Linked DNA regions of Homo sapiens: region 2 is linked to region 1. The links come from fine-mapping of genetic effects on gene expression. A gene starts in region 1. The other region holds a variant in brackets. All regions are shown on one strand. Distances are between the middles of the regions. Region 1 holds the start of UBE2Q1 (ubiquitin conjugating enzyme E2 Q1). Region 2 overlaps KCNN3 (potassium calcium-activated channel subfamily N member 3).

Region 1 (4,262 bases):
TAATTTCCCCACAGTCACATCATTAGTAGTTGGCAGAGCTGGGGTTCAACACACTAAAAAAGGCAGAGTAGGGTACAAGGGCATGGACTTTGGAGACAGGCCTAGGAACTCTGTTTACAGACTGTATATCCTTACAGAGTCACTCCTTTTCCCCAGTTGTAAACAGGGGTAAAAATACTTACCTTGCAATGTTGTTGGGAGATTTACAAATATTTGCACCTGGGCACAGTGGCTCACACCTGCAATCCCAGCACCTTGGGAGGCCGAGATGGGCAGATCACTTGAGCCCAGGAGTTTGAGACCAGTCTGGGCAACATACCAAGACCCCTTTCTACAAAAAAAATACGAAAATTACCCAGCTGTGGTAGCATGCGCCTGTAATCCCAGCTACTTGGGAGGCTGAGGTGGGAGGATAGCTTGAGGTCTCCCGAGGCTGCAGTGAGCTGAGATTGTGCCCCTGCACTCCAGGGCGAGAGAGCAAGACCCTGTCTTAAAATAAATAAATAAATAAATAAATAAATAAATATATATATATATATATATATATATATATTTGCAAAACACCTTCGCTCAGGAAATAATTAACAGGAATTCCCACCACAGCCTTTTATGCTATCAGCTTGCACACACAGACACAAAGTCAACATGTAGCAAACTGTTCAGGCTACCTAAACCAGATAAATGGCCCCACGAAGACCAGGAACAGACTATAATCGTCTTTAAATACCCATACCCCAACTTGACCAAAGGAGGCCTCTGCAGAGGCAATTGAATAGTCTTCCAGCAAAGGCTAGCTCATTTTAGTACAAGTGGGAGAGAAACGGGGCAATCTGACCAGTGGTTTAAGGGCTGAGTTGGCCCAGCAGAATTGACTAGGCCTTACCACAGGCTAATAACACTTGCCCTTGGCAAAACGAACGCCAGCTCGGGATTTCTGTAGCTTCAACCAGCTTTGTCCTTTGTGATAGTGCCACCTAGCGAGGGTCCGGAGGCACTACCTACTCCTGGCAGCTGCCAAGACCACTGCGACAAGGTGTTAGCCATTTAGGCCTAGGAAAGGGAATGGGGACCACCCGAGTCAGCACTCCTTCCATGACTCTGTGGAGGAAGCCCATGCTGTCCTTCCCCCAACCTCGTCCAGACCCATGGGGTCTGAAAAGCGCGAAAGGCCTGATATTAACTAACACTTGTACATAACACAGCAGTGATCTATTATCATTCCTCATTTTATGGTGTCCTCGCATCGAATCCCTCCCTGGGAATAGGAAAAACAGGCATCATTCTCATGAGAGCCATTGTACAGATGAGGAAACTGAGACTCGGCGGGAAAGTGGTTAACCCAAGGTCACAAAACGCCATGAGAGCCAGGGCTGGGACGAGAATCCACGCCTCTTCCATTCCGGTTCCCGGCTCCTACCCCGACCACCCACCCGAGTGTGAAGACACAGCATGCCCACCCCCACGGGGAGCAGAGGCTCCAGGATCCTGCGCCGAAGACCAGCATGTGGGAGCAGGATAAAGACTGCACGGGGAAGACAGCACTTCTTTCTTCTCTGTCCATGGAGTGCCGGGCACGCTCGCCACGGCTCGGGGGCGGGGGAAGCGGCGCCCGGGGCAGGAAACAGCGTCCTGCGCGGGTAGCCCCTGGGAGCACGCGGCACCGAGTCACGTGAGAGGGGAGCGCAGGCGAAGGGGCGTCGCGCGCAAGCACGCACGACATACGCAAACTCGCACTGAGGCGCCCACAGAGGCAAGCCCCAGGCCCCGGGTCACATGTGGAGGGTGGCAGGCGAGAACAGGGGGGCGGGAAAGACGGAGAGATCACGTGGAGGAGGCCAGAGCAGGGAAGTCACGTGAGGGGGACGGAGGCGGGGCCGCCTAGGAGGAGGAGGAGGAGGAGGGGCGCGCGGCTTCCGGCGGCTGGGGGGGCCAGCGAGCGGAGGGGGGGGCCTGTCCCGGAGGTGGCGGCGGCGCCATCTTGGCGAAGGGGGGATCAGGAAGTGCGGACCGCGGCGGCGGCGGCGGCGGCGGCGGCGGCGGCGGAGCCCGGAGCGCAGGCCGGAGGCTCCCGGCCCGCCGGCCCCGGAGCGGAGCGGAGCGGAGGATGCAGCAGCCGCAGCCGCAGGGGCAGCAGCAGCCGGGGCCGGGGCAGCAGCTGGGGGGCCAGGGGGCGGCGCCGGGGGCCGGGGGCGGCCCAGGGGGGGGCCCGGGGCCGGGGCCCTGCCTGAGGCGAGAGCTGAAGCTGCTCGAGTCCATCTTCCACCGCGGCCACGAGCGCTTCCGCATTGCCAGCGCCTGCCTGGACGAGCTGAGCTGCGAGTTCCTGCTGGCTGGGGCCGGAGGGGCCGGGGCGGGGGCCGCGCCCGGACCGCATCTCCCCCCACGGGGGTCGGTGCCTGGGGATCCTGTCCGCATCCACTGCAACATCACGGTGAGGACCCCCTCGCGTGCGCCTCTGTGGGGGCCCCTTGTCAGGGACCCAGGATCACTCCATCCAGCTTTTTGCTCTCGAAGGACCTGGGAGGCCGAAGCCCCTCTCAGGGCTCAGTTCTTTCTCTCCAGGTTACATTTGTTTCTGCTGCTTGAGGTTATGCAGTGCACCCAGAATCTCTACCATTGACCCCAATAGCAAGGGACACCCCGACATATGGCGCCTAGACTACCCGTTTCCACGAACCCACCCACATCCCAAGGTTCATGATTTTGGCTCTTTTTGGCTACTCCTCCACAACTTTACCTTGCCACCTAGGAATGCGTCTTTCTTCCCCTTACTCTTATTTCAAGGTTTTAGGCCTCGGCACTGACCCTAACTGCAAAGACCTGGCCTGAAACTCACTGCACATTTCAGCGATGCCCCCTTCTCAGTAGTACCTCTGACTTAGGAGGTTGCCACCTGTGGGATCCCCGCCTAGGCATCCCTCATGCAGACCCTCTTGCTCTCTCAACTTCACCAAGTGATAGTTTGCAATTCATTGACTCCTCTTCCTTCTCTCCTTTGGATTCTTTTTCTGGTGTAACCTCTAACTCTCCTCTTTTTGCCTCAGCTGGTAGCAGTTCTGCCACTCCCCTGCCTGTTCCCTATGGATATGTCCATTTGCCCTGGGTTGTTGCTTTTCCTGGTAATGATAGTGATGTGATGTGCGAGGGCTACCCCCATTTATTCTAAGCAGTAACAGTTGCATTTCTCCCCTGTGAGCGTCATTCCATCCTAGGCATACACCTTACATGTCTCCTGCCTGGTCTACCCTCAGACATCCCTTGAACAGAGAATTGGCTTCTGCTAATTTGGGAATGTCTGGTACTGCATGCTATAGCACTTATATTGGTTGATGTTACCTGCTGTGATGGTATTCTCTCTACCGGAGCAGTAGCTGAAATGCTAGCAGACAGTACTTTATCCAGGCAGGCAGACCTAATCGGAGTAGCCTGGGGAAAGGCAGAGTTGTGAATTCTCTGCTACTTGGGGGCCTGAATTCAACTTACTGGTGTTTTCTGTCCGTTTTCTCAATCAAACCAAGTTAAGATTTGGTGAGGTAAAGCCTCAGTTTGGATTGATTGGTGCCCCACCAAAACTCATATGTCCCATTTCTCTTTTCATTTCCTTTCTTTTTTCCTGCTAGAAAGTTAAAATTGAAGGACTAGGAGTGGCTTAGTTAAGTGAAGACTTGGGCATCTTTGATAATTATTTTTCCTCCAGCATTGAGGATTAGAGTCATGGCAATGCTAAGATACCCAGTAGAGGTGGATAAGGTTTCCCTGGCTTGTGTGGGAACCTCGAGTTAATTTTGTTCCTGAATTAAGCTTCTAATTCCTTAAGGGTAGGTTTGCCCCTATCCAGCTGCTCTTTCTGTTGCCAGAGGCCATTTACTGCGTTTGTCCCTGGCAGGAAGTTAAATTTAGGGGGTCCTCAGCCAGACTCCCCATGGCTATAAAGGAGACTTGGCCTAAACTAGCCCCCTTGGTTTGGGCAGAGAGGGAGTCTGGTCAGGCTGCATTTGGCACCGTGGCTCAGGAATGCTGGGAATGTCAGTAGCGTAGGCTTCTTTCTCCCAGCCTGCCATGTGGAGCCCTACAGCCCACGCCTGGACTGAGAAGGTGGCAGGTTCCCAAGGGAGAGGTGGGGAGAATTGGTCTTTGAGGGGCTCTTCTGGAAGTGGTGTGGGTAGATTCTTGCCAGTACCCTTTTACTCTTGGGTTCTGGAGATACAGTCTAGTTTTTATACTTCTTCCCTACTGAACTCTGCTTTTTTCACTTCAGTGTC
Region 2 (4,262 bases), 140 kb before region 1:
GACACTGCAAAATGTCAGAGGTGACCAGAAAGACAACAGATCTCTCCAGCTGTCCTCACAGCTGCAGGCACATTTGTGGAATTGTGAGTAGGAAGGCTTGGCAGCCAGGGGATGGGAAATGAATTTCCCCAAGTTGAAAACCCTGTACCCTTACTTTCCTTCCCATAAATTTTTCTGTAGTTCTAGGTAAATAATAATAATAATAAAAATGCAAATTAGGTGCTTTAGAAGGAGTATGTAATATCTGGGACTTTTTCTAAGTTGGTAGACCTAAAAAATGTTTTCAAAAATATATCTAGCTGCATTTCTACTGCTGTCATTCCTTAAAGCTCTTCCTCCAAAAACTCCATATGAATGAATACATTTACCAACTCAGTGATTACTAAATAATAGTACTTTATACTTATACACAGTAATACCTTTCATCTAAGGATCTCAAATGCCAATATATTAGTCATCACCCTGTAAGGTGGATGACATATTATTCCCATTATTCCAATGGGAAAATTGGGCCATAGAAAACTGAGGAGCAAATGACTCATCTACAGGAATTAAATGGAAAAAACAGGCTAGGATTTCTCAGCACACTTTAGGAGTGAATGAAAACTTACAGGCTTCAGTTCTACTGCTGGCCACCATTGGATTTGTAAGATCCAGGATGTGTATTGACCACATGTGTCCAGACCCAGGCTTAGGGCATCTGGAATGAGAGTGGTGGGCTGGTGTGTGGGTCTGAGGATCTGGATGGGAGACTGCATTTTCTTCTCTGTGCAAAATATGGAAGTGTGACCTTGAAGGTGGGCTTAGTCTATGGCCTTCCCCACTCCTGCTTGAACTGAAGCTGGAGAGAATGGGCATTTTTAAATGTTACGGCATATGCTAATATAATATTATGGCATTAAATAAAAACAAGAAGAGAACTGACTAAAACCAAAAAACCAAAAATGCAAGTGACTGATTTCCTTTAATTTTATCTTCTTCTTTCCCTACATGTATAGTTGTGAAAGCAAGATTTTTTAAAAGAGGAAATCTTAATTTAGATCGGAAACAGCGTCCCCTGGAAAAGGTTGCTTCTTTAAGCAAGGCCAGAACTGCCGTGGTTTTCATGGTAGTGTTGACTCAGGAGATTGGCCCCCCCAACATGGAGACACATGGAAGGCCTTAATACCAAACCCAGTTTTAACCACCCAGAGAGAGTGAGAGCCGCTCCTAAGGTGAATGGCTGTTCATCAACGAGAATATCTAGACACACTGATGTGTGATACGGCAAACTTGCAACTATGTTCAAGTAAAGTATCGGGCAGTTCCACACAGCACTCCTTCCATTTAGCTGAGCAGAGGGTCTCAGTAGACTCATCTCTGAAGCTTTTGAAAACCCCAAGCCAGGCTTCTCAACCCATGGAGACTCAGAAGCAGAGTATGGGTGACACCTGGGCATGTCCCTGAGGCACCACAGGTCGTTCTAAGGGGTGCCCCAAGTTGAGCACCACTGATCCAGAGCTTGCTGAAGTGAGGCCACCGGTGCCTAGTCTGGCACAGCCCTCCTCAGGATCTCTCCCCTCCCCCTAGTTGGTGAGGAGACGGGAAGAGAAGAGAGTAGGAGGGGGCAAGGTTTTTATAAAGATGGTGATTTACTCGAAGCTTGATTCCTTTTCATCTTGCCCTCATGTCTCTTCAGTCCTGGCCCCATGAGACTGTGCTGATCTGCATGCTGGCTCTACGTGTATTGGCAAACAATGCTGCCAGGTTACTCTTCCCTCACATGGTATTTCTCTGGCTGGCTGCTGCTTTCTCCTGGCACACAGTCTGTCTGGGTGTAATGTCTTTCTTTGGCCTTAGCTCTGGGTGAAGATTGAGGGAGGGCTATTCTGACATTTTTCACTAGACGAAAAAAGTTAAAATTAAACATAACACATTGTCCTTGCTAGCAGGTAACTCACTAAACCTAACGCACAAAAATTGGGTAACCTGCTATGTTATACGCATTGATCTTTTCCAAACTATATCTAACCACTAGATAAAATGTTGTCTCCTATTATAAAGAAAATTTGATCCATTATTACATCATGCATAACTGTGGAAGCTGGAAAAACAAGACATTAGAACTCAAAGGTGGGCCCAGTTTTCCAAAATGGACAATTCTGCTAATTCAGAATTCAGGAGACTCTGAGTAAGAACACCCCCTGCAGACCAACGGGAATAGGGCAATCTGAGGGAAAAAGAAATGTCACTTGGCATCCAGGAAAAGGCTCATCTGTATGGCTGTCAAAAACAAGGTGCTGGCACTGTATGCGGATGCAGATGAGAAGGCAGGCCATGCCTGTTAGAGACATTCATCTAGGTCATGGCCCTTGCCTTACACATAGGAGACAGAGATTCAAGAGAAGTGATTTGCCTGGAATCAAATGGAGAATTATGGGCAGAAAGTAAACTGGAACCTTTTCATGCCACATTGAGAATGCCTTCTGGGCTGATGTGGTAAATTGAGGCCTGCCCATAGCCTCTCCATGCTCTTTCTTGATTCATCCTCATAAAGTAGTTGGTTATCCATTTTGCAAATGTTTGCTAAGAAGAAAAGCCCCTGCTTCTCAACACACGCATACACCGCTAATGCATACACCGCATTAGCAATATCTCAAAGAAAACAAAGATATGCAT[A/G]TTGCGACTGGTTAAAATAATTCATAGTGCATTTTATATTCCAGAGGCATTGATCATTTTCAAAGTTATCTGCCTTTAGTTTAAAGAATTTACAGCTAATACTTGCAAAGCTACAAGAACCCCCACTGGTCAGGAAACATTAAATTCGATTATTAAAATGATGTGATTTTATATCCAGCATTACAGTGGATTATGCTAATGATGGTCAAGGTTATTAATCTTCATTGCCGTCACCACTGCAAATAATACATGAAGATTAGCCAAAATTAACTTAATCTGCTTGTAGCATGAATTTGAAATTTACACTTTATTTTTTCTGAGAACAAGTCACACTTAATAGCCTCTCTTAAAATGCATTCCTCCCCCCCGGAAAACCAAAGGTGGAAAACACGCATGCAATACCTGAGGGCGATTTCCTCTTCACCTAGGTAAAACGCTTTTCCAAACCTCTTCTGCTTCCTACTTTCAAACACTGGGGTATCACTTAAAAGCAATCAAGTACTTCTCAAGAAAGAATGCATACAGTAATGGGGCACCCACATCCCAGTCACTCATCAAGGGAAATGTCAGGTCTTCTGTAAGTGCCTGTAAGCTGTGATTCAATTGCCCTTTCTTAGAACACCCTCCTCACCTCCCACCTCTTGGAATGAGAAGGTAGATACATAACTCATCCTAAACTTCAGAATTTGGGAATCTTAACAAATTTACCCTTAGGATTTCCTACAGACTTTTTTCAATAATAACAATGCAATGTTTACTTGATTCACAAATTTGGGAACATAGGACCCTGTTTGGTGGCAGTTTAATTGAGAAAATGCTCGACGAGTATGGTCAGATCATCAATAAGAGGAACTGACATTCTCAGTTCTGTACTTGGAAATAAGATGTGAGAAAACTGTAGAGGACATTTATTCACTATCTCTAGAGCACCCATTCCCCAATTCTCTGCCAACAGCATGCAGAGTTTTCTTTAGTGAATTTGCCCTTCTCCCATCCCAACTATGCACTTGGGTGGGGTTAATACAACTTCCAGACCTCTGGTGGGCCATGGCAGGCTTAAGACAATCAGAGTACCTCATCACCCTAGCCAACGGATGGGCACAGGGCCCAAATCAGGCCAATGGGAGCAAGTGAACCCCAGAGCCCAGGGCTTGAGCCAGAGCAACCAGAAAAGACCCTCTACCCCAGGAGGGTGAGGTGCTGCTTGATCAGGAGCTGCTGCAACCCTTTTGTTTGATGAGGGGAGAGGGAGGAGTTGACAGAGGGCCACCATGTGGAACATGAGGATGAAGACCACCAAAGGCAGAGGGGAGAGGAGAGAAATGGGGACATTATGTGGCATAATAAGAAATATATTTTGGGTCTTTGTCCCTTGTTCCTGGCACAGAGCTCCTAAATCCCATGGGATTTCCTGGATGATAGGACCCACTTCTTGTTATAATGAGGTGACTCTTGCTGGGCTCCTGGATAGCTCCAAAATTGGAGCTGGTCACCAGAAAGACCAAGCTCTGATTAGAAACCTGGAACCTTCAGCCTAGCTAACATGGTGAAACCCCATCTCTACTAAAACTACAAAAATTAGCCGGGCATGGTGGTGCATGCCT

What was found. PIP is the estimated chance that this variant, and not a neighbour inherited with it, causes the effect.
Region 2: its variant is the best candidate, but not a certain one, in a credible set for the expression of UBE2Q1 in whole blood (INTERVAL, PIP 0.81).

The regions. Positions count from the first base shown.
Region 1 is chr1:154,556,396-154,560,657 of GRCh38, reverse strand. UBE2Q1 (ubiquitin conjugating enzyme E2 Q1) reads left to right here and starts at 1,996. Exons shown (of 13, transcript NM_017582.7): 1 at 1,996-2,431. The coding sequence starts at 2,105. RefSeq lists enhancers at 980-1,560, 1,561-2,142 and silencers at 1,512-1,601, 1,722-1,811, 1,902-1,981, 2,302-2,401.
Region 2 is chr1:154,694,138-154,698,399 of GRCh38, reverse strand. It overlaps KCNN3 (potassium calcium-activated channel subfamily N member 3), which reads left to right. Exons shown (of 8, transcript NM_002249.6): 8 at 1-945. Among named protein-coding and RNA genes, the nearest start is that of ADAR, 88 kb to the right of the region's middle. The variant A/G (reference allele first, on the strand shown) is at 2,659.